7 linked regions of the Homo sapiens genome follow. The protein of the gene in region 2 purifies or fractionates together with the protein of the main gene of each other region. This does not show direct contact. Each region holds a gene or a part of one and is shown on either strand. Other genes may lie near its edges. The genes, in order: NUP50, PTPN2, HADHA, KLRG2, ITGA1, DNAJC10 and RCL1.

Region 1 (3,500 bases), on a different chromosome or scaffold from region 2:
CCCACCTCAGCCTCCCAAAGTGTTGGGATTACATGCGTGAGCCACCACACCTGGCTGAGGACTGCATTTCACAGGTGTAGAACCTGCAGGTACAGAGGGGCGACTGTACTTTAATACTGTTCATCCCAACAACCTTGGGGATTAAGTGTTAATGCTGACCTGCTGTTCTAACAGTGCTGTTTGAAATAGGCATCCTTTTGTCTACTGCCACACCACCCTCGACGCGCCCGATCACATCTCAGATAGGCGTCCTTTTGAAGGAAAAGATTATTTTTAAAATGTGTAGAGCAAGCATATGGTGGTTAGTGTTCTTGTATAAACTTTGACTTGATCTTTATTCATCGGCTTTACTGATAACTGGTTACTAAATTCTACTCCTTGAACACATACTTTTTGAGCGGTCACAAAAATAGGGCACAGTAGGTCGGGCGCAGTGGCTCACGCTTGTAATCCCAGCACTTTGGGAGTCCGAGGCGGGCAGATCATGAGGTCAGGAGTTCAAGACCAGCCTGGCCAACATGACGAAACCCCATCTCTACTAAAATACAAAAATTAGCCGGGTGTGGTGGCGGGTGCCCGTAATCCCACCTACTCGGGAGGTTGAGGCAGGAGAATCGCTTGAACCTGGGAGGCAGAGGTTGCAGTGAGCCAAGATCGTGCCACGGCACTCCAGCCTGGGTGACAGAGCAAGACTGTCTTGGTGTGGGGGGAGATACAGTAAAAGCAGAAAGTATGAAGGCAGAGTGGCAAAAAAATCTAGATGATTTAATCAAATTAGGCTAAATAAATGGTTCAATTATTAACTTTCTATAGGTTCTCTTGCTGCAAATGGCCCTACCACCTTGGTTGATAAAGTTTCAAATCCCAAAACTAATGGGGACAGTCAGCAGCCCTCCTCCTCTGGCCTTGCTTCCAGTAAAGCTTGTGTCGGAAATGCCTATCACAAGCAGTTGGCCGCCTTGAACTGCTCCGTGCGGGATTGGATAGTGAAGCACGTGAATACAAACCCCCTCTGTGATCTGACACCTATCTTTAAAGACTATGAGAAATATTTAGCAAACATTGAACAGCAACACGGGAACAGTGGCAGGAATTCTGAAAGTGAATCTAACAAAGTGGCAGCTGAAACACAGTCTCCTTCCCTTTTTGGCTCAACAAAATTACAGCAAGAGTCAACGTTTTTGTTTCATGGCAACAAAACTGAAGATACACCTGACAAGAAGATGGAGGTGGCATCTGAAAAGAAAACGGACCCATCATCACTAGGAGCGACAAGTGCCTCATTTAATTTCGGCAAGAAAGTTGATAGCTCTGTTTTGGGCTCATTAAGCTCTGTCCCCCTGACTGGATTTTCTTTCTCCCCTGGAAACTCCAGTTTATTTGGCAAAGATACTACCCAGAGTAAACCAGTCTCTTCACCATTTCCCACTAAACCATTGGAGGGCCAAGCAGAAGGTGACAGTGGTGAATGCAAAGGTAAGTACCAGCTTTGTCGTTGAGTCGAGGTTTGCATAAGATTCTTGTTTCTTGGGAAACCCAGAGACTTTGATTCCAAATATGAGTCTGGATTCACATTGAGACGTTGTTCTCTCCATGTGTGATCTCAGACAGAGCTAATCAGCTTCTCTGAGTTTCAGATTCCTGCTTTATAAAAGAGTAAGACTTTTGTAGGGTTGTTTATAAGGATTAAAAATAAAATGAATTTGAAAACACCTGACTTTGAAAAGTCTCAAACACACATGGTTTAGCATATAAAAAACAAGTGAATTAAAGACGTTTTTTGAAAATTGTGTTTTTGGAAAAGTTCATCAAGTTCATCATGAATGTCCCCTGAATTGATTTGTACTTAGGAGATCTCACTGTAAATAAAGTCATGTGGCAAAACAGTACTTGACTATACATTACAAATGTAGACTTTTCATAGCCATAGAGAAGAAATCAACATTGTTTTCCTCCTGTGGGTTTGGAGGCGCCTCCTTTCCAGAGCGTGGCAGTGGTGTCTAAGTGATGTTTCCTGTGTGTATCGTCAGTGCCCCAGACAAGGCACAAGGTCTGGGCCCTCCAGACCTCTGTTGTTAGCTTAAAAAGTGGGGTGATGTCATGATGCTGCTTCCTCACATGGTGGTTGTGAACAGGTGATGTCTGTGAAGACACCTACTTCTAAGCAGTTGAAAGTGAGGCCAGGTGAGGTGGCCCACACCTGTAATCCCAGCACTTCGGGAGGCCAAAGTGGAAGGCTCACCTGAGGCCAGGAGTTTGAGACCAGCCTGGGCAACATAGCAAGACCCCATCTCTACAAAAATTTTTAAAAATTAGCCAGGCCAGGTGGTGGGCGCCTGTAGTCACAGCTACTCTAGAGGCTGAGGTGGGAGTATCTCGAGCTCAGAAGTTCAAGGTTGCCATGAGCCGTGGTTGCATCACTGCACTCCAGCCTGGGCAGCACAGACCTTGCCTCAACAAAAGAAAAAGTGTACTTCTCAGACATATGGACATACTGATCCTTGAGGAAGAAAACTGCATTTGCCAATTTGCCTCTGAAATATTACGGTTTTCTATCAGGAGTCTAGACTTCCATTACTGTTTTGCCTTGCCCTGCTTTCAAGTATATCCTCAGGCACGGGCCCTCTGGGCACAGGGTGAAATAAGGGTCTCCCCTTTTCTTTCTTCTCTGCCTCCCATAAATAAAACAAATGGGGAGTCTTTCCTGAGGCAGGCACTGGGGATTTGAATCGAGTCCCAGTGGAGGCAGGATGCCCCTCAGTGAGCGCCTGTTCCTTGTCCCTTGGTTATCACAGTTTAAGCATCAGAAGACTCGGGAGATTGGAGGGATAAGACGGACAGTCGTGTGACCTAATCATCTGAGCATCACAGTTGTTTTTCTTAGAATTGCTTTTTGGTGAGTTTTTATGCAACTGCCGTTCTCTTTAAGAGGATCCTTTTATATATGTGGGGTTTTTTATTTTTTTGAGACAGGGTCTCGTTCTGTCACCCAGGCTAGTAGTGCAGTGACGCAATCATAGCTCACTACAGCCTCTACCTCCTGGGGTGAAGCAATCCTCCCACTTCAGTCTGCCAAGTAGCTGGGTCCACAGGCACGTACCGCCACACCTGGTTAACTTTTTTATTTTTTGTAGAGATGGGGGGCGTCTCACCATGTTGACCAGACTGGTGTTGAACTCCTGGGCTCAAGCGATCTTCCTGCCTTGGCCCTGCAGCGTGCTGGGATTACAGGCGTGAGCCACTGTACACAGCCTAATACATGTGTTTAAATGATGGCCTAGGTCTCCCGTGTTTGGGAGACCCCGTTAGTGGGGATACCTTTGGTACCAGAGCAGTGACCCATGTGGCAATTCAGACAAAGCTTAAATTACTTACACTGGGGCTTTGGAATGATTTTTCTGACAACTTGTCCCCTGTTAAAAAAAAAAAAAGTATTTTTCTATCTTTGGCTATTACTGATACTTGTAGATGTAGTCACAGGAATATTCAGGGGTGAAGGT
Region 2 (3,500 bases):
GTTTTTAGGGCTTTTCAGTGGACAAAAGCTAAGGAACAATATGCATATGTTAAGATAACATACTTCAAGAGTTCATAATGATATTCCCAGTTCAAATTTGGAACTATAAGTGTTGCTTAGCCCCTTCCATCTTACATCTGCTATTTCCTTTTTCATACCAAGAATCCTGGTTCTCAAAGATATGAGAGATGTAAACTATCTTGTAATGACTCATTTCCTTCTTCCCATATCATATACAATATATAACCATAATCATGATATCATCTGCTACCAAAATAATTACTGAAAATGGTTTACAATTTTTAATATTTTTTTCATTCTCTTCCTGGTGTTTCTGAGTTGTACTTTACAAACTGTAGTCTCTCCCTTACATCTCTTGTAGACTCTTAGTTCTACAAGCAAGCATTATTTAATATTCATCAACAGTCTTTGCTGATGTCTCTCCAGTCATTCTGACTAAAGCTCATTCTCTAGTGGCTCCTAAGGAGGGACTTGTGAGCATTATAGTCTGATTTTTTTACATGTCAGTGATGGTTCATCTGCTGTCTTAATATCTGAAAGTCAGTTTGGCGGGATATAAAATCCTTGGCTCATGTGCTATTCTTTGAACAACTTTTTTTTTCCATTTCCTTCTGGTATTCCACCAAAGTCTAATGGACATCTTATTTCCTTTATAAGTCTCTTGTTCTTTTTATCTGCACTACCCAAAGAATTCTTTTTTTCTTTTTCTTCAGATATTATTAGTTTTACCAAAAATATGTCTTAGTAATTGGCCATTCTGGGTCAGTTTTTACAGGTACATGATGTGTTCTTGAGAGTTTGACTTCAAGTACTTTTTAAAATTTTTTAAATACTTTTTGTTAAAGAAATATTTGTTGAATTACAGTCCTTAGTATTTGTTCTGCTCCCTTGCTTGCTTTAATGTTCTTCTTTGGGTCTTCCTATTATACGTATGTTGGATTTTCTTTGCCTACCTTTTTTATTTGTCACGTTCTCTTTAATCCTGTTTATCTCTTTATTTCTATTTTACTTAAAAAAAATTTTTTTTTTTCTGGCCAGGTTGGAGGGCTTACACCTATAATCCCAGCACTTTGGGAGGCTGAGGCAGGAGGGTCACTTGAGCCCAGGAATTCAAAACCAGCCTCGACAACAAAGTGAGACCCTGCCTCTACAAAAAATACAAAAAGTAGCCAGGTGTGGTGGCACGCACCTGGAGTCCCAGCTGGGGTTGGGGGATTGCTTGAGCCCAGAAGATTGAGGCTGAAGTGAGCCAAGTTCACCCCAGTGCACTCCAGCCTGGGCTACTACAGAGCAAGACACTGTCTCTTAAAAAAAAAAAAAATTATTTATTTTCCTCTTAAGGCATTATTATTATTATTATTTTTTTTTTTTTTTGAGACGGAGTCTCGCTCTGTCGCCCAGGCTGGAGTGCAGTGCTGCTATCTCGACTCACTGCAAGCTCCGCCTCCCAGGTTCACGCCATTCTTCTGCCTCAGCCTCCCAAATAGCTGAGGCTACAGGCGTCCACCACCACACCCGGCTAATTTGTTGTATTTTTAGTAGAGACGGGGTTTCACTGTGTTAGCCAGGATGGTCTCGATCTCCTGACCTCATGATCCGCCTGCCTCAGCCTCCCAAAGTGCTGGGATTACAGGCGTGAGCCACCGCGCTTGGCCAGCAACATTTATTTTGAAGATAAAATTATTGCAAGAGTTTGATAATTTTAGAAACATAAAGTGAATGTCCCATGACGTTAAAATATAGGTAATCATGCTTTAAGAATGATAAATTTATTTTTATTTTATGAATATGATACCTATGGCTTTTTTAGTTTATAAGTTACAGGAACACTTAAAAAATACCTTATAAGACCGGACATGGTGGCTCACGCCTGTAATCCCAGCACTTTGGGAGGCTGAGGTTGGTGGTTCACTTGAGGTCAGGAGTTCAAGACCAGCCTGGCCAACATGGCAAAACCCTGTCTCTACTAAAAATACAAAAATTAGCTGGGTGTGGTGGCAGACGCCTGTAATCCCAGCTGCTCAGAAGGCTGAGGCAGGAGAATTGCTTGAACCCAGGAGGCAGAGGTTGCAGTGAGCCAACATCACGCCACTGCATTCCAGCCTGGGCGACAGAGCAAGACTCCAGCTCAAAAGAAAAGAAAAGCCTATGGAGACAGAAAATGGATCAGTGCTTGCCTGTGGCTTGGAGTGGGAATAGGACACAAGGGGATTTCTGAGTCTGAGAGAAATGTTCTAAAACTGGCTTACAGTGATGACTGCACACACATAAAAAATGCTTTATAAAATTTCAATCTCTACCCGCCCTGCTCCCCGAGATGGAGTCTTGCTCTGTCACCCAGACTGGAGTGCAGTGGAATGATCTTGGCTCACTGCAACCTCCACCTCCTGGGTTCAAGCGATTCTCCTGCCTCACTCTCACAAGTAGCTGGGATTACAGGCGCCCGCCATCGCGCCTAGCTAGTTTTTGTATTTTTAGTAGAGACAGGGTTTCACCATATTAGCCAGGTTGGTCTCGAACTCCTGATCTCAGGTGATCCTCCCGCCTCAGCCTCCCAAATTGTTGGGATTACAGGCGTGAGTCACCGCGCCCGGCTATAAAATTTCAATCTTACTAAAATACATTAAGCGTAGAATATAGTAGTGACTTCTTAGTTTTGGGTACTTGAAAAAATATAGCATGTATATATCTGGTTTGTTTTCATTTTTTAACTTTATGGTTTCATGATGTCTATAAACTAAAAAAAAATCATATACATATTTCTAAATTTAGGTTAAATGTGCACAGTACTGGCCAACAGATGACCAAGAGATGCTGTTTAAAGAAACAGGATTCAGTGTGAAGCTCTTGTCAGAAGATGTGAAGTCGTATTATACAGTACATCTACTACAATTAGAAAATATCAATGTAAGACCTTTCTTGCCCGAAATTGTGGACTTTATATGATGGTTTAAAGAATTATTCTTTATTATTAGATTTGAAGTTTGATAAGCACATGCATTTGGATAATTCCTATAGTATCTAGCCATAATCACGTGTTTTTAGATTGTGTGTCTGCATCTAGTAGCTTTCTGAGGACTCTGAAGAAACAGTAGAAACTAAGAATTTCAAAGTTCAGTTTGATATTTGGGGATTAAAAATTAATTAATAGAAATACATGAGGATTAATAGAGAGGGCTTTAGAATCAGGCAAACCTGGATTCAGATCCAGCTCTGCTGCTTAGTAGAGCTGTACTTTAGACTTGTTCCCCACCCTCACTGATCCCTTCCTCATCTGTAAAATGGAGGTTACCACGCCTTCCCTCCGGGGCTGTCCTGAAGGTCAAATGAGGATGTGTATGCAGAGCACCTGACCTTAGTAAATGCCCAGCAAGCAATAGCTCCCAGGACCTGTGACTGCCAAGAATAGCAAAATAGTCAAGAAAATAACTTACAAAGCTATTGTTAAGTGATTCACAACACAAAAATTTGTCCCTATT
Region 3 (3,500 bases), on a different chromosome or scaffold from region 2:
AAAATTAGCTGGGCGAAGCAGGAGGATCGCTTGAACCCGGGAGGTGGAGACGAGATTATGCCACTGCACTCCAGCCTGGGCAACAGTGTGAGACTCTGTCTCAAAAAAAAACAAAAAACAAACAAAAAAGACCCTGACCTGAGAATTCTTGTCTCTGTTGGTCTATTATAAAGCTCTGGCCTCTTCTGAATTCCTGAATTTGTATGTCTAGCTAACCCTAGCAAATTAGTCTTTGTCAGAAGAGTGGGCAGAGAAGGAAAGAAGATCTTGTGACCCGGAGCTTGGGCATCTGTGTACATGGATGAGAAAGGCCACCTGGGTGAGTTTTAACATCCCCATATGCAGCACCGGGTCCTAGAACACCCAGGTTGTAATGCTGATTTTGCTGTTTTGCCAAGACAGAAAGTCACTTCTCTGTGGGCCTCAACTGTATACTGTGTATGGTGAGCTTATACATTCTCCTCACAGGTGGCCAGACAGCATGGTAAAGCCCGGATGCAGAGCTTGCTTCTGCACTATTGCAGATTTCATCTCTGGGGGATAAAAATGCTTGTCCATCTGGCATAACTTGGACCAGGTGATGCTAGAGCCCCAGAAGGGTAGAACTCTGCCTTTTGTCCATAATCTATAGTCCTAGCCCTTAGAAGGTTCACATGACATCTTTTTTTTTTTTTTTTTTTGAGAAGGGGCCTCGCCATGTTGCCCAGGCTGGCCTCACACTTCTGGGCTCAAGCGATCCTCCCACCTCAGCCTCCTAAGCAGCTAAGACCATAAGTGGTTGCTACCGCACCTGACTCATAAAATCATTTTTGAAATCGCCAGTGATAAGGGCTCTGTGTTTAGAAAACTTTCTTCCACGAGGGCTTCTGTAACTCTTTGGTCTCAGGAACTGCTTAGAACTTTGTAACTAATGGTGCTAGTTATGTTTCCTTGAGGCTACTCACCTAGGAAGCCCTTGGACACCATCTGTGTCAGCAGTTCTGGGTTTCCACCTCCAAACCGCTCCCCAAAGACTTTGCCCAGATCTTCCGCCACATGTTTCGCTACATCCACACCAACTTCATCCACCAGTGTGGCGGCACCCACAGGAAAGCCAAAGCTTGTGGTCAGGGAATCCAGCTTCTTCGGGTCAACTCCTTCCTGAACAGGAAGCGATGCAGGGACCTCAGGGGAAGGGCAGCCCAAATCCCCCCAAAGGGCTCCCTGTACTGGCTCCAAACACTGCCTTGTGTAAAACCCACTTCTGAGTGTCACCTGACCAGGCCCAGGACTGGTGCTATTTCATTCAGGGAAGCACAAAGAAGTTTGGGGCCACAAGTGGAAAGTCTGAGCCTTCTCTAATCTACAGCACTTTAAGGACGTTTAGAGATGACTAAATTCTTCATTTTCTTCTTGTTTGCATTTCTGAATCTCAATAATAAGGAGATTGCATGACAGACGGCTGAGTGTGTCATGACCAACAGAAGAAACATCATCAAAGAGGAGCACTCAGAGCCCTGTGATCCCCAAGTCTGGGTAAGTGCCCAGCGAGGAGGATCCCTCTCCTTTCCTGCCAGAATGACCTCGATGGCTACTGGAGAGGTCTGTGTGCTGTGGAAACAGATGCAGCACCAGTTGAACCAAGCGGGCCCTGTTCTGGATGGTCCCTGCCTCAGAGAGGTGCAGAAACAGCATAGAAGACATGCTGGGGGGTGGGGTGCCTTTAGCTTGCTGGAACAGTGAGGAGGCTGTGGGGCAGAGGGAAAGCTCTGCCCCTTTCAGTGCAGTATAAGCCCAACTTCCGACTGCTGTGCAGAGAGAGGGCACCAGGGACCTTCCTAGACAAGAGCAGGAGTTGGTGTATCAGAAGGAAGCTTGGTCCTTATCTTGACATCATGAGTTTTAGAGTGACTGAAGGAGTGGAAGATGCCGCAAACACTCTGGAGAGCAATACCAACCTGGAGGATTCGGATGACTTCAGACATCATGGGCGCAAGACACCTGGTAGTATAGAAGCCAGGTCCATCCTGCCAAGGAAGAGAACATGAGCTCCCTGGCCCTGCTGCTGGGACTGAGTCTGAAACACTCTACCTTTCCCAGGGTCACTTCAAAGTCATTTGAAAGTCACTGTAAAACTTAAGGTGACTTAAAATCTCAATCAGAATCCTTAAAAATGAAATTGCAGGGGAAGCCGTACTAGGGGTAGCCTGGCTTGAATCAAACAGTACAGCAGATAGTTTCATGGTCACCTTCAAGGTCTGGGATGGCTGGGAGAACCCTGCCACATCCTAGATACTCCCCACTCCCACCTTGACTCAGTGGGACAGTCAATACCACCGTCCATCCTGGAGACAACCCAGGGGAAAATCATATCAAAGTCTGGTCATTTGCCCCAGAATATTTATAAACAAGCCTGGAGGTAAAAGGAGTCTTATTAGAACTTTTCAAAAACTCTGCAGCTCTGTTATACAGCCCCTTACCTTAACCACAATGATGACCTTCCCCTGCTTGAGACCAACTGCTACAGCTGAAGCACTGGTGTCTTTGGAAGTTTTCTCGGTCGTGATAATCTCCAGCAGCTGCATCTTGTCCACGGGAGAGAAGTAGTGCATGCCAATCACCTGGCAAGGGGAACCAAAAGCCAACAGATCGGAGAATGCGGGTGAGGAACCTGAGAGCATTCCTTCTCTGCTAGGAAAACACTAGAAAGAAAGGTGGCTGTGATATAGGAATACTGCTTGACATAGCTGAGTGGTTTGGTTCCATGGGTCTTTGATAAAAGTTTAGTATGTTTAGGGAGAGCACATTGGAATCCTCCTCTTCCATTTGCTTCTAAGGTTTTTCACTACAGACATCTGATCCTCCCAACAATCAGTGCCAAAACCACAGCTCGAGGCCAAACTAGATTTATTGGGGAACGACGGATGAAGGTTCCACTTATATTAATGATACTGATGGTTTAGATAAGAGGATCCAGTTTTTTTGGGCGGGGGTGGGGCAGGCAGAAGAATTAATGTGTTGGGCTGTCAGAGAAGTATTTGCATTTTACACAGATGGGTCTCACCACCAGGATACTAGGTTTAACTAACACTCCTCAACAGTCAGATGCACTTAAGACTCATTAAACCAGCAGTTCTCCAAGTGTAGTACCCGGACCCAACAAGCACTGTCATCACCTGGGAGCGTTAGGCCTGCACATTCTCAGGCCTAGCCCAGCCCTACTGAATCAGAAACTCCATGGGTGGGGCCCAGATTTGTTTTAATAATCCCTCCTGGTGATTCTGATGCGTGCTAAGGTTTCAGAGAAACCCCTCATTGAGCTAACAGTTACATAGTCTTCCCAACAGAACTGTGGTGAAAGAAGTCTAATTCATTAATTTATAGTTTTGCTTTCTCCCTCTCACTTTAGCTATAAGGTACAACAAGTGATATCTGTAATTTTTGGCTGCTCATTATCTACCTGCTCTTCAATACATTTACCACTTATTCCTTACATTTAATCCATTACAACCCTATGAACT
Region 4 (3,500 bases), on a different chromosome or scaffold from region 2:
TATGCTGTGAATGGGGGAATATGCCAGGGCACCAGTAGCCTGTGAGGGCAAGAGGAGCTCAGTAGGGATCAGTTTCTGCTCAGCGCCTGGGCTGGGCCCTGAGGTGTTGGCGTTGAGATGGGAATGGGCTGTGCAAAGAAAGCACCCCAGGCTCCTGTACCAAACGACTCAGACTGGTTGTATCTGCAAATTGAAGGCCTGTAGGAATGTAGGTGGGACCAAAGGTGGTCTCTAGAGTGCCTAGAGTTAGGGCCAGGAGCCAAGCAGGGCGGGGATCATATTGTTGCAGGGACATAGTTCATCCCATTACTTACTTATGGAATCCCATCGCTTAAGACTGATGAACATAGCATTTTGTCCTGAGACAGACAGATTGAGCACAGCAAATGCCAACAGGAAGCCAGTAAAACGGGCCTCACATCAGACAGGTTCACCTCAGATGAGCTTAGAACTCCTTGTTGCCAATGGGGGGAGGTGGGTTTAACTATCCAAATTGGAAACAGAACCTGAGATAAAGAATTTAACAAAAAAATGCATACAGCATCAATCATTTGAAACATAAGTAAATCTGCAGAAAACATATCATAGTCTGGGTAAACCCCTTCCCTGCAAAAAGACCAACGCTAAGATTCAAGATCTAGGCAGTTAAAATCTGGAATATAATGATTGTGGAACTCTGGAATTTTCCTGAGTTCTGGACAAGGACCGGAAGCTCCTGCAGGTGCTGAGGCAGGGTGGGGAGGACAGGACACACACGCAGAAGCAGCGCGCACAAACCCCAGGAACGCACCAGGGCCAGGGTGCCCAGAGGTACAGGATAGACGTGGCTCATCTTCCCAGAAGCCTGTTTTGCTCAGGATTAGTGAAAAGTAGGAAGTTGTAAGTGCTCACCATTAGTTTAATAACAACTTTGCTTTGCAGAGTGGAGGAGGGAGGAAGCTACCTTAACAGCACACACTGAACTCGAGCCCGATGCTAATTTCAAAAAGATTAAACCATTGAATACATTTACATCCTAGGATTAAGAAAAGTAATTTGAAACATTTTAATATTAAAACAGACATGGATGAAGATAGAGAGTAGAATGGCTGTTGCCAGTGCAGCGGGGGATGGGGAGTTGTTTAATGAGGACAGCTTCAGTTTGGGGAGGTGAAAAAGTTCAGGAGATGGATGGTGATGATGGTTTTACAACAATGTGGATATACTTCATGCCCTTGAACTGTACACTTATCATGGTTAAAATGGTAAATTTTATGTCATTAAACTTTTTCTTTCTTTCTTTCTTTTTTTTTTTGAGACAGGATCTCTTGCTCTCTCACCCAGGCTGGAGTGCAGTGGTGCAATCATGGCTCAGTGCAGCCTCGACCTCCCGGGGTCAAGCCATCCTTCGGCCTCAGCCTCCTGAGTAGCTGGGAGTACAGGAGCGTGCCACCACACCTGGTTAATATTTGTATTTTTTGTAGAGACAGGGTCTCACTATGTTACCCAGGCTGGTCTCAAACTCCTGAGCTTGAGTGATCTGCCCTCCTCAGCCTCCCACAGTTCTAAGACCACAGCTGTGAGCAGCCATGCCTGGCCGTGAATCTTTTATCACAATTTTTAAAAAAGAAATGTATGAAGGCATAGGAAACAATTTTCTATAATTTTAAGACGTAAAATATGAGATTTTCAGTCCATTCTGCTCAGGATCACATTCCCTCTCCCCATATTAGTGGAAAAGTTGGAGAATCCACAGTTAAGGAGGCCTCAGGATCTTTTGCACAGAGCAGTCCTTTTAGCCATAAATTACTTAGTAGTTCCCAGAGTTTATTTATAACTCTGAACAATGCCTTCCCTACACCACCATTTTTGCTAACAATGAGATCAGGAGTCTCAAACGCAAGGAAAAGAAGAATGGAATGGAGTGGGTGGGTCTAGGCGGGGCTGGGGCTCGGGGGAGGCCTTCAGCTCCCGTCACCAGGAGGCCCAGAGGGGAAGGGTGAGAGAGGCAGATAGCTTGGGGCTCTGACAGAAGGACAGGGTCCTCTTGAGGTTGCTGTAAGCATCAAAGGGGCTCATGTGTGTAGGAGGCAGGTCACAGGCTTTGCCCATCACATGTCAGACGCGAGAGGACATGGGATGAGTGTGTACTAGGTGGCCGTGGCTTTATATGTTAGTATCTCAAGCCTCATCACAAGCATCTTCGTTTTACAGACGACCACACAGCGGCTCTGAAAGGTTGGGTAACTTGTCTAAGGTCATGTGGCTCACAAGTCATGGAGCCAGAATTTGCATATGGGGTAGCCTGGCTCCATCTCAGCCCCGGAAGAGGCACTGAGCCCTGGTGTGCCTTCCCAAACAGGCAGCTGAGTGCTCCCAGGAAGACGGTGTTGGGCCGCTCAGCCCTCTGACTCACACCTCAGAGCAGCCTGGGGCCCTCCCATCCTCTCCAAGTTTCCCTGCCCAGCCCCACCCTGGGCCCCAGTGTGTCCCCGAAGCACCAGCCAAGGAACAGCTGCCCAGTGTACATTCTCTGTTCCGTCCACTCACCACTCTCCATTTTCCTATGCACTCTGGTCTTTAGGATTCAAGAAGGGTAAGATTAGCAACCTTCAGCCTGGGAAGTTGCCCCTGACTTCTCTCTGGGCTGTTAACTGACTGGTGCTAACCTTGAGGGGCAGAAGATGGGTTTTCCGTGACACTTCTGGGATACACAGTGGCCTGATGGCCTGGTCTCACTGTGGCTCTGCTGATTTTTGGCAGTGAGCGCGGGGAGGCAGTTTCACTGAGTTGACCTACTGTGTACTGGGTTATCATAGTGCGATGCTGAGTAAGACAAGCTCCTGGCCCGCACCAGGTTCACCAACTAATACAGGAAAGTGACAAGGAGGCAAGCCATTAGAAGGCAGCACATGAGTGGTGGCACGCACCAGCAGTCCCAGCTACTTCGGAGGCTGAGGTGGGAGCATCGCTTGAGCCCAGAGGTTCAAGGCCAGCCTGGACAACGTAGTGAGATCCTGTCTCTTAAAAAATAAAAAAGAGAGGCTGGGTGCAGTGGCTTATACCTGTAATCCTAGCACTTTGGGAGGCCGAGGTGGGTGAATCATCTGAGGTCAGGAGTTCAAGACCAGCCTGGCCAACATGGTGAAACCCCATCTCTACTAAATTGGGCGTCATGGCAGGTGCCTGTAATCCCAGCTACTTGGGAGGCTGAGACAGGAGAATTCCTTGAACACGGGAGACGGTGGTTGCAGTAAGCCGAGATTGTGCCACTGCACTCCAGCCTAGGTGGCTGAGCAAGACTCCGTCTCAAAAATAAAAATTAAAAAAATAAAAATAAAAAAGAGACAGCTCTATTCTGTGAAAGTTGTGGAAACCAAGGGGAGGGAGGAGCACCTATTTCACCTTGGAGAGGGTCAGCCCAGTGTCCGTTAAAAAAGCCACCTTTAAATCAGTTCTGAAGGATGGAGGAGGTGGCAGCAACAGGACAATCATCACTCTAATTCCCAGGGCTTGTCTTT
Region 5 (3,500 bases), on a different chromosome or scaffold from region 2:
AACTTATTTATGGCCTCTCCTGCCCCAAATCAAGGCATTGATGGCCCAAAATGATAGTCATTTCCCTATCATAGTCCAGGCTCCACTGACAGCAGAATGGACCAAACCGATATACTGGGACACGAAGACTAAGATTCACAATGCCTAACAAGAAGTGAGAGTGGATACAAGTGACAGATGATAGGAAAAACGTTTGGAAGCAAATAGTGAGAGTCTTGTCATGAGACCTGGACTGACTCCCAAGAAAGATCTGGCTGGGGCAGAGAGGATGTGTGGGGTGGACAATGGTCGAGGCAGCTTCATGCCTGGAGAATCCATATTACTAAGCAGGAAACTAGGCATGTTCATTCATTGCTGATGAAAGGGTAAACTGGCTAAAACTCATTCGAAGGTCTTTATCAATAAGTGTTTAAAAGCATTCCAATGTTCCTACTTTTTACCAAGGATTTAACTTCCTAAAAATGTAAAGATACAATCTAGAAGTACAATTAAAGGTGTCATCACAGCACTGTATGTAATACCATCTTTTAATAATGTTAAATTTACCACTATACTCAGAAACCTTTTTTTTAAATTAAGCTAAATATCCAATGAGATGGGATTGAATGCATAGATTATGGTATGTGCATATGCTGGTATAGTCTGCTTCCATTAAAAATAATAAATCCCATTAAAAATAATGTTCTCAGAAAAATGTAAATATTGGAAAGCTGTTCATTGTAATATAATGTTTTAAAAATTTGTAGGCATACATATGAAGATGTGCTTTTGTATATATGTATGTATGCATGTGTGTACGTGTATGCATGTTTTCTTCTGTAAAGAAAAAACCACTGAGTGTACTAAATGTTAATGATGATTATTGCTGAGTGGTAGTATAACAAGTTATTTGTGTTTTCTTTATGCATTTCTATGATGTTTATATTTTCTATGAGTCCATTGTTTTAACAGAAAAAAGAAAACCACCTTTTTTTAATGCAAAAGCATAAGTAGTGACCTCATTATTCACAACATACACAGTTATAAGGGGCTAGCTCTGGCCACAAGGCAGAAACCAGGTAAAAATGTGCAGTAATTGTTCCGGCTTGGATCTAAGACAATGACCTCAGTATCCATATATTCTCCATGTCTGAGATCTTACTCTGATCTCATTTTGGATTAGTAGACATTACTGGGCTTTCGAGTTAAAACGACTGAGTTTAAAATCCCAGGTTTTTCCTCTTAATAGCTTTTGACCTGGCATAAAATATTTAACTTTTCAGAGCCCCAGTTATCAAACGTAAAACAAAAAAATGATGTTGCTTATAATTAACCTTAAGAATTAAATGAAATAGCATCCATGTCTAGCACAATGCCTCAAATGTTATTTTGCTTTTCCTTCCTAGAAATAGAGGAAGAGCTGAACTCACAAGGACAGACAATATTACAGTCCAGACAAGAGATAGCAGGGGTCTACGGGCTGTTCAGGGACCTTTAGACTTCTTTCAAATTTGGAACAAACTCGTAAATCCCCAAAATACAGTTGATTCTGGGGTTTCACCTGGACACTTGATTCCATCTCTTTTCCATCACAGGAAAAACTAGATCTTTGGTGTTTGAACCAAAAGCCCCAAATGGTTTCCAAATATAACCTACATGTCTTAGAACATCAGATATAATCTCTTCTGTAACAATGATTAATTAAAGAAATGGAGTCCTGAGCGCTGTATTATACATGAAGCAGAACCCTCTTCCATGCACTCACTTTGCACTCCCAAGTTGATGACATTCATTAAATGTAAAAATGTGTGAGTAATCCCATTGTTTTTGTTTGTAGGTCCCGAGATGTGGCCGTAGTTAAAGTGACCATGAATTTTGAGCCAAATAAAGTGAATATTCAAAAGAAAAACTGCCATATGGAGGGAAAGGAAACAGTATGCATAAATGCTACAGTGTGTTTTGATGTGAAATTAAAGTCTAAAGAAGACACGATTTATGAAGCTGGTAAGCAAAATAATTATAGCAAGTACTTTTGGGTAGAGGACAATATATTTGCTCTAGCATGATGAAGTCCAGTAGGATATTGTATTTTCCCCACATGGTGAGCTGCACGTCATATTTGCCCCAGTGAAGATGCAGAACCTTGAAAAAAAATTCTGTTGCAAAAGGAATAGGTTATGGAACCCAGTCAATTCTGGAGCAGAAATTACATGTTTGTATGCAGTGCCCTCAACACTCCATAGTTTCTGTCTGGCTCTCCTACTTGCTATGTACAATGAGACGCTTAAGAAAAAAATACCGATTCAGAGGTAGAGTTTAGAAATTGAGCTACAAATGGGCCCAGTTTTCCTTCCTGTAGGTTTCTACCATGACTCTTCTCTCCCTTCTCTTGCCCCCTCTTGGGAAAGACTGATATTGCAGAGAACCCTAATACTTTACCATTCCCACATTTCCGAGATCCTTTGTTCCATTGAGGTGACCCTAGTTTCCGAGAGTCAGACTTGTTCTGTGTGTGTGTTCTCAGGTGCATCAGGTCAGCCTGTGCTTCCTCTTCCTCCCTCCGTTCTCCACTTTCTAAGGCAGCTTTTTAATGATGTTGAAATATGCTCGAATCAAAGCTATAAAGGCCATTGGCTAAAGAAGAGAAATTTACTCTGTAACCAAATACAAGCAGAATGAGAAAAGCCATTAATCCTTAAAATCTGTTTTTCTTGATTTGTTCCATATGTGCATGTATATGCTCTGAAATAGCCTCCTGACTAGAAAGATCAATGAGGTATAAGAACATAAAATAATGATTTTGAGTTTTATATGTAACTTTATTTCAGTCTTATTTAATTTTTGCAAAGTAATTAAGTGATCAAATAAGGAATATTGTAGCCTTCATATACAGTGTAAGATTTCATTTATTTTCTTTATTGTGGTATGCTTATTTTATTGAACCTTAATAGTGGTTTGACCATAAGCTGAGATAATGTCATTTTATATATAAATAGATTAAAATGTATATATTTGTAAATAAATAACTAAAGTATATTTTTGTCCCTATTGAAATATAACATAATCAATATTCTAAGCAGGGTTCCAACATTTCTAAACTTAAAAAGAATGTTTTAAGTGAAAATATAATAAATACAGTGGTGGCCTGGCAATTAGATGATAGGCAGGTGTGCATGTGTGTATAAGAATTATAAACAATAAATGTAATTAGACACTGAAAGCACAGTGAACTCAGAGACCAGTTCTATAGAGTTCCTCAAGGTTATCTTCATGACTGCTAATATCATTGTTATAACAGTGTGGATATGCTGAACAATAGAATCTTTTTTGATTGATTGCCAAAGAGATTTTTCTATAATGCTAATTTAATAATCTGTACAATATGAGAATCACTTCAAATAAACATTTCCATCAATTATTTTTTAAAATTTTTGTAGATTTGCAGTACCGTGTCACCCTAGATTCACTAAGACAAATATCACGAAGTTTTTTCTCTGGAACTCAAGAGAGAAAGGTTCAAA
Region 6 (2,854 bases), on a different chromosome or scaffold from region 2:
AATACATGTTCAAAGAGTAAATTAAAGAAAAAAGAGATGCTCAAGTCAATTTATAAGTAATCCTCACAAATGCTTGCATACCATCAGTGAACAATTATTTTTTTATCTCCATGCTATAATCTTGCACAAGTTTCATTAGAATTAAATGCACTATCTGAAGTCTATGTTTATTAAATGAGGATTACAGTAGTTGGTTATCTTTGTGAGGGGTTTTGAGGGTTGTGGAACAGGATAACATTTTGAGGTACAAAAAATAATGAAGAGGATATATTCCAATTTCTTTCCTTCCCCAAGGCTTTTCATTACAGCTGTTATAAACCCTGGTAGAATTGATTGGTTTCCTTTTCAGCTTCCTGTTTTGTCCCTCAATGTTCACAAAAGTCCCATCTGATAAATGTATTGTTTAACCTCTCATTGTTTGAAAGAACACCTCTTTGCTCCCCACAGATTACAGACCTATTGGCTTAAGCAGTCCATCTAAATGCATGCCAGTTTCTTTCTTGATAAATTAGAGGCCTATAACCTCAAACCAGTTTATCTGCAAGAGAAGTGTGTGAAGTTAGACTCAATTCTTCCGCTAATGGAACATCGTAATCCTCCTTGTCATCTTTCCTTTGGCCTTCCTGAATAGAAATCATTTATGAGGAAGTTACATGAGCTCAACATGAGCCCCATGTCACTCAGCAAACATTTATTTGAGTACTTACAATGTGCTAGGCTTTGTTCTATGCATTTAAGATAGTGTATTAAATGTATTGACCTCATGAAGATTCTATTCTCGCAGTGGGGAGATAGACAATAAACAATTAATATAAGCAAATGTTAAGTATGTTAGAAGTATGTTAGAAGATGTGCTGTGAAATAAAGAAAAAGGTAGACCAGGGTATGAGGGATTAGGAGTGTGGGGGCAGCAGCAGGAGAGTTTCGGTATTAAATAGGGTGGACAGGGCAGGTCTCTTGGAGAAGATGCCATTGAAGGAGGTGGAAAAAATGTAGCCACTAAATGGGCTGAGGGTAGAGCATATGAACAGAGAGAAAGGCCAGAGGACAGGCTCCAAGGCATGCTTGGCAGGTTCAAGGAACAGCAGGGAGGCTCATGTGGCTGGAATGGAGTGAGCTAGCAGGAGAGAAGATGAAGTTAGAGGGAGAGAGAAAGTGGGGAGCCAGATCATAGAGGGCTTTGCAGGTCACTTGTAAGGACTTTAGCTTTCTAACTTTTGTAAGGACTTCAACTTCTACTCACAGTGAAATTGTGAAATTCCAGAACCAAAAAGAAGATCCTGGTAAAAGAGAAACTTTCAGCAAAATATATTTAACATTTTATTTGAGTGAAGAACAATTCATCCATCAGGCAGCACTGAGAACCAGAAGACATTCAGAGAGCTCTGCTTTGCGAGGTATGCAGTGAACATTCATAGACAGAAAACAAAAATTAAGTACAGAAATAGCTTGATTGGTTACAGATAGGCATTTGCCTTATTTGGACATGGTCTGCTCCAAATAAGGCAAGTTGGCAGCATGCAATTGGCTGTGACCTATCTGTTACAAAAATATATCTATATAATCCTAAATTAGGTTTCAGTTTATTTAAGTACTAAATTAGGTTGCAATTTATTACATGGGAACTCAAAGTCTGGAGACAGCCTCAGGCCAAGGTCCTCTTGCTTATTTAATTTAGCAATCCTAAAATTTTCCAGAGAGGAAACACATCACACACACACACACACACACACACACACACACACACACACACACTACCTACAAAAAAATAACAATTAGAAAGTAATTGGAGCTTGAAGTATTCTAGAAGACTTTGGAGCAAAGCCTTCCAAATTCTGAGAGGAAAATATTTTTAACCTAGGATTCTATTCATACCTACCCAGACTAACAAGTAGCAGGCAGATGATAAATATATTTTTAGGTGGTTAGGTGATGAAACACCTCCTCCAAATGAAGGCATAAACAACAATGCATGGGGATCCAAGAAACAGTGACTCCAACCCAAGAGAGCAGTGAACAAATCCACAGGACAGCAGCTAAGTAGGAGGCCTAAACATCACCTGGGGCAGATGGGGCGAGAGAGCAGAGAGCTTGGGAAAGAAGTCTCTGAGGAGAAAGAATGAGGCAATAAGTCAGATGCGTATTTGCGGACCTCAGAAAAATTTGAGTACATAGGAAACAATAGATGAAGGATAGAAATAATCCATTCAGATTCTCTCCTTTGCATGATGACCACATTAAACTTACAGAGTAAGAAATGTCATTCTAGATTTGATTCTACTGTTTGTCTTTGCAGTGAGCTATGTTTTTTTATAACATGTAGAAGTGAAATAAACTTGTCACAAAAATGCAAATTGTGTCACCAATTTTCAGCTTAACAACATAAAAATAATTATATACACTGACCCAGGTTAAGGACGGGTAGAAGTACGAATGTCCTTATCTTCCAGAGTGAAGTGAGGCTGTAGTCAGGCATTGCAAACTCACATAGTTAAGGGTGTTTTGTAGGTAAAGTACATGACGGTAGTTAGTGCATGCACTATTTTAAAAAGGCAGTAGTTTCTCTGCTCCAAAAGAGTATTGTCATGAAGAAAGAGACCCAGATGTTCCAGTTTACCCAGAATTTACCCCAATCCGGGTTTTTATGTAAAATATTTCAAATGTTCACAACTACTTAAAACATTTAAATATATGAGGGTCAAACAATACCATATCCAGCCTGGGGTTTCCAGTTTGTGACATTGCTACAGCAGATGGATAAGAAAATGAAGTAAGGTGTTTGAATGTATGAAATTAACCAGTATAGATGTTAAACTGGCAGCAGCAGCTCTAGAGTATGGAAGGGCCATCCGGT
Region 7 (4,282 bases), on a different chromosome or scaffold from region 2:
CTGGGGAAAGGACAGTCTCTTCAATAAATGATGCTGAGAAAATTGGATATCCATATGCAAAAGAGTGAAACTAGATCTCTATCTCTTGCCATTTACAAAAATCAAAGAAAAATGGATTAAAGGCTGGGAGTGGTGGCTCACACTTGTGAGGCCAAGGTGGGCCAATCGCTTGAGGTTAGAAGTTTGAGACCAGCCTGGGTAACATGGCAAAAACCCATGTCTATACAAAATACAAAAATTAGCTGAGCATGGTGGTGCACACCTGTAGTTCCAGCTAATGGGGAGGCTGAGGTTGGAGGATTACTAGAACTCGGGAAGTTGAGGCTGCAGTGAGTCATGAGCATGCCACTCCACTCCACTTTATAACACACTGTTGTCTACATAAGGCTAGCTACATCCCTTAATCTTAAACTCCCACCGCTTTCAGACACTATCATACCCCGCCCCCCTTCCCCCCGCGAACCCCCGTGCATTCTGGGACTCATGGTTTGGTGAGTGTTGTCCAGGAATGGCTACAAACCCACATTACTATGATATCGGACTTCTACTTGTGTAGTCATTTGTTAGTTAACTGTACATTTTGGAAGGTTTTTGAGTAGAGAAGTGAAATAATCCAACGTTTGGGAAGATTTTCTTGTGCAGGATTGGAGGAGGACGGGAAAGAGGGAAAAAGCATTGCGCGCGTGTGTGTGTGTGAAGTTATTACAACTATCTATCTTGAAGCATGCGAGGTAGGAGGGCCTGAATTGCCATGAAACGCAATGACGATAAACGAAGGGACCCGTGAGAAAGGGGCAAAGAGGTGTCTCAATAAAATAAGCAACGGCCTGCTGTGGGAGGATTCGGGTCTCAGTATAGGCTGCCACTGTCAGCTTTGCAATATTCCTCGAGCCTTTATCCATGAGTAGGACAGGATGGCTCTACCTTGCAGGGTTACAGCATGGAGCTGCGGGACTGCGCCGGCAGTGCGCTGAGCGGCATCCCTGCGATAGGGTGAGTGCACCAACCCTTGTTGTCTCTCTTAGTAAGAAAGAGGAGGGGTAGATAATAGCATCTTCACCCCAGTAGTTGCCGTAAGTAGTAATGCTAAGAATCCGGCACGTCGTAGGCATCAATCTCAGTCCGCCATCTCCCCTTGCTACCACGCCAGGAGGTACACAGAGGAGACTGCCCCGACTGGCAACTCCCGCGCCGGGGTTCCCTGGCCATCCTCCCGCGTTCCCTCCAGCCGCGCGCTGTTGCCAGGGCCCGGGCACCGCCCAGCTCCACTACGGACCAATGGCAGCGCGGCTTGGGCACCGCCCAGCTTCAGCGGAAGCCAATGGAGGCGCGGCGCGGGCACCGCCCTGATCCGGCGCGGGCCAATAGCGGCGTGGCCCGAAGCGGGGGCCGCCCCGGTCGGGCGGGGAGGCGGGGAGGTGGCCACTGGCTCCGCCCCGCTCCCCTCTGACCCGGTGTCTAGTCTCTCCGTCTTCCTGTTCCAAACCACGTGGACGCGTCTGGGCTGCTGGAGGCAGCCCGAGCCGCCGCCGTCGGTGTCGCCGCCACCACCACCATCGGAGTCACGAGTCCCGCGTCTGTCCGAAGTCGCCGCTCTCGGGCTGCTCACGTCTCTTCGGAGAGCGCGCACATGGCGACTCAGGCGCACTCCCTCAGCTACGCAGGGTGCAACTTCTTGCGCCAACGTCTGGTCCTGTCTACCCTGAGCGGGCGCCCCGTCAAAATCCGAAAGATTCGGGCCAGAGACGACAACCCGGGCCTCCGAGGTAACTTGGTGTGGGCGGCGCGCGGCGTGGGCGCGGGGGCTGAGGGGAGACCGAGCTGATGCCGTGGGGGCCCGCGCGGTGTTGGTTGGGCGGCTCGGCGTCCGGCGAGCGCGTCGGGGAGGGCAGGTGGCGCGTCGCCTCCAAAGCCGGAGGGGCAGGCACAGTGGGGGAGGCGGGGTCGGGGCCCGAGGGGAGCGCTCAGCTGCAAGCTGCGCTCGGCGTCTCCGGGGCGCTGGTAGTAAACAGCTGCACGTTTTCCAGCTTTACGTGTAGCAACAAATCCCTGGCGTCGCCCCTTCGCGTCCCTTCGGCCCCTCTTGCCCTCGCCATAAACCTCTCAAAGGAGAAAAACAGTTTGTTGGACCGAAATATGGTGAATGAGCCGGGGGAGAGACATTGGGAGAGAAAAGTACCTTGGGTTGGTTCTCTGCCCTGTCTCAAAGCAGTTCTCAGAAGCAGCTGCCCCCTTGGACACCGGCTGTTCCTGTCGCCATGATTTCTCGGCTGCCCTCACACTTGTCCTTGGGTGTGGATAAAGAAATTTTTAAAATTCTGTGTTTGTTTTCAGCCGTGACTGTGATTGATGTGCGCAGGACAGGAGCTTTGAGATAGACTTTTAACAGTCATGGGCCTAATTGCCTTGACTTTAGAAAAGGGGTCGGTGACAATCGCTAAACTGCAGGCTTCCAAGCTCACTTCTTGCTCTGCAATGGTAGGTTAAAAAGAAATAGGCCCATTTAAACCCACATCTCATTAAATGGCGCCGGTTTTCAACTGGCCTTGGTTTACACCTGGCCCCCTGGCATGAGATACATGCATTTAAAAGCTTCTGACTGGTGGTTATCCCAAGTTGGGCGAGTCAGTAGTCAGGTGAAAAAGGAAAAAACCTGTCTGTAAATTGAAAAAGAGTGTTTGTGGTTGGTCCTGGAAGCTTCCTGAGCGGCGCTGATGTGTTTCATTTTGCACTGGCTCTTGTTTTATCTGTCTGAATGCATTTTTTGGATAGTTAGATCTCTGCCTCTCTTGGGTGGTGATTGGCTGCACATAAAGGGCAGAAGATGCCATGCTATTGACGGAGATAGGTTAGGAAGGAAAGAAGCAGAATATCCCAGGTACAGTGGTGAGAAACCTAGTGATGGTAGGAAAAACTTGTGTTGGTGGTTCCTGTCCTCTCTCTACTGCTCAAAAACACTGAGAAAGTTAGGGAGAGACCACAAATGGTTTATGCCACGACTTTTCCGTCAACAAGTGTTCCACTTAGTTTGACCCTTGGGCAAAGTGTTTGCTTGATTGCTGTGTGGCATTCTCAGCCAGCTCTCCATCCACTTTACCCTCAGGTTAGCTCAGAGAACTTGCCACTAGCTGGATATGGTAAGAAGATGGACTTCTACTTTGTATAAAAGTAGGCATAACTTTTTTTTTTTTTTCCAGAGAAATGGAAGTATAGCCTGGAAACCTGGGTTCTCTAAAATGAATCTAGTTCTATTTAGAGTTTTTCTATTGACAGGTGGCCTCCAATTTAATATTTAATGTTCCAAAGTATGCTTCTCCTTCTCCCCCTCCACTGTATGTGAGCATCTCTTCAAAGCATCTCACACATATGAGCTCCCGTTTCTTCCAAGAACAGGGCTTGGCCACTTGGCACTTTCTTGAAAGGGTGTCAGACGCTGATACCTGAGGGAGGTAGAACTGCTTGGCAGGTGTGCTGGTATTTTATGGGGAACATTACTGTAGAGCATTATTTGCCTTACCCCGTTCATATACCAGGGGAAGAAAGAGACTCCTAGTTATTTGTACATCCTTGCGCTGGCTTCAGGGCCTCAGAAACCTTGTAGATGTTTGTCTGCTTAATTTCTTTCTTTTTTTTTGAGACAGAGTCTTACTCTGTCTCCCAGGCTGGAGTGCCGTGGTGCGATCTCGGCTCACTGCAACCTCCGCCTCCTGGGTTCCTGCAATTCTCCTGCCTCAGCCTCCCTCGTAGCTGGGATTACAGGTGCCTGCCACCATGCCCAGCTAATTTTTAGTAGAGTATTTTTAGTAGAGATGGGGTTTCACCATGTTGGCCAGGCTGTATGAAACTGCTGACCTCAGGTGATCCGCCTGCCTTGGCCTCCCAGAGTGCTGGGATTACAGGTGTGAGCCGCTGCGCCCAGCCTGTCTGCTTAATTTCTTACAGAGGGAACAGAGAGATAGATATGCATTTGCAGATATACATGTATATGTGTATATGTATACACATACATGTAAGTGTATATACATATACGTGCACGCATAAATAGATGTAGTCCCTGACACATGATTTCTGGTCATAATCAAGGGAGTCCTTGGTAGCTTGATTGAAGATGTAGCCGGAAGCCTATGTTGCCCGTCATCTGTCCCTTTCTGACTTTTCCTAACTCAGATTCTCAGAGTTGGAAAAAACTCAGAGCATATCCAATAAAATCTTCAGTTCTAATGCAAGAATCACATCTCTTCAAGGTGCTTGCTTAAAACATCCCTCATGGTGTGGGCTTTGG

Evidence for each region.
Region 1: the proteins of PTPN2 (region 2) and NUP50 purify together in Homo sapiens (affinity purification with mass spectrometry; 2 studies listed by BioGRID and IntAct, with this or other methods). This does not show direct contact.
Region 3: the proteins of PTPN2 (region 2) and HADHA purify together in Homo sapiens (affinity purification with mass spectrometry; one large-scale study listed by BioGRID and IntAct). This does not show direct contact.
Region 4: the proteins of PTPN2 (region 2) and KLRG2 purify together in Homo sapiens (co-immunoprecipitation; one large-scale study listed by IntAct). This does not show direct contact.
Region 5: the proteins of PTPN2 (region 2) and ITGA1 purify together in Homo sapiens (co-immunoprecipitation; one study listed by IntAct). This does not show direct contact.
Region 6: the proteins of PTPN2 (region 2) and DNAJC10 purify together in Homo sapiens (affinity purification with mass spectrometry, with the first as the bait; one large-scale study listed by BioGRID). This does not show direct contact.
Region 7: the proteins of PTPN2 (region 2) and RCL1 purify together in Homo sapiens (affinity purification with mass spectrometry, with the first as the bait; one large-scale study listed by BioGRID). This does not show direct contact.

What each region holds. Positions count from the first base shown.
Region 1 is NC_000022.11:45,177,425-45,180,924, forward strand, and holds part of NUP50 (nuclear pore complex protein Nup50), read left to right. Parts: intron 1-813; coding exon 814-1,476; intron 1,477-3,500. UniProt on the Homo sapiens protein: Component of the nuclear pore complex that has a direct role in nuclear protein import. Actively displaces NLSs from importin-alpha, and facilitates disassembly of the importin-alpha:beta-cargo complex and importin recycling.
Region 2 is NC_000018.10:12,825,238-12,828,737, reverse strand, and holds part of PTPN2 (tyrosine-protein phosphatase non-receptor type 2), read left to right. Parts: intron 1-2,793; coding exon 2,794-2,928; intron 2,929-3,500. UniProt on the Homo sapiens protein: Non-receptor type tyrosine-specific phosphatase that dephosphorylates receptor protein tyrosine kinases including INSR, EGFR, CSF1R, PDGFR.
Region 3 is NC_000002.12:26,192,633-26,196,132, forward strand, and holds part of HADHA (trifunctional enzyme subunit alpha, mitochondrial precursor), read right to left. Parts: intron 2,601-3,500; coding exon 2,460-2,600; intron 2,007-2,459; coding exon 1,938-2,006; intron 1,141-1,937; coding exon 945-1,140; intron 1-944. UniProt on the Homo sapiens protein: Mitochondrial trifunctional enzyme catalyzes the last three of the four reactions of the mitochondrial beta-oxidation pathway.
Region 4 is NC_000007.14:139,456,174-139,459,673, reverse strand, and holds part of KLRG2 (killer cell lectin-like receptor subfamily G member 2), read left to right. Parts: intron 1-3,500.
Region 5 is NC_000005.10:52,916,916-52,920,415, forward strand, and holds part of ITGA1 (integrin alpha-1 precursor), read left to right. Parts: intron 1-1,816; coding exon 1,817-1,983; intron 1,984-3,416; coding exon 3,417-3,500. UniProt on the Homo sapiens protein: Integrin alpha-1/beta-1 is a receptor for laminin and collagen. It recognizes the proline-hydroxylated sequence G-F-P-G-E-R in collagen. Involved in anchorage-dependent, negative regulation of EGF-stimulated cell growth.
Region 6 is NC_000002.12:182,792,111-182,794,964, forward strand, and holds the end of DNAJC10 (dnaJ homolog subfamily C member 10 isoform 1 precursor), read left to right. Parts: 3' UTR 1-2,354; downstream 2,355-2,854. UniProt on the Homo sapiens protein: Endoplasmic reticulum disulfide reductase involved both in the correct folding of proteins and degradation of misfolded proteins.
Region 7 is NC_000009.12:4,791,462-4,795,743, forward strand, and holds the start of RCL1 (RNA 3'-terminal phosphate cyclase-like protein), read left to right. Parts: upstream 1-1,482; 5' UTR 1,483-1,630; coding exon 1,631-1,766; intron 1,767-4,282. UniProt on the Homo sapiens protein: As part of the small subunit (SSU) processome, it plays a role in 40S-ribosomal-subunit biogenesis in the early pre-rRNA processing steps at sites A0, A1 and A2 that are required for proper maturation of the 18S RNA.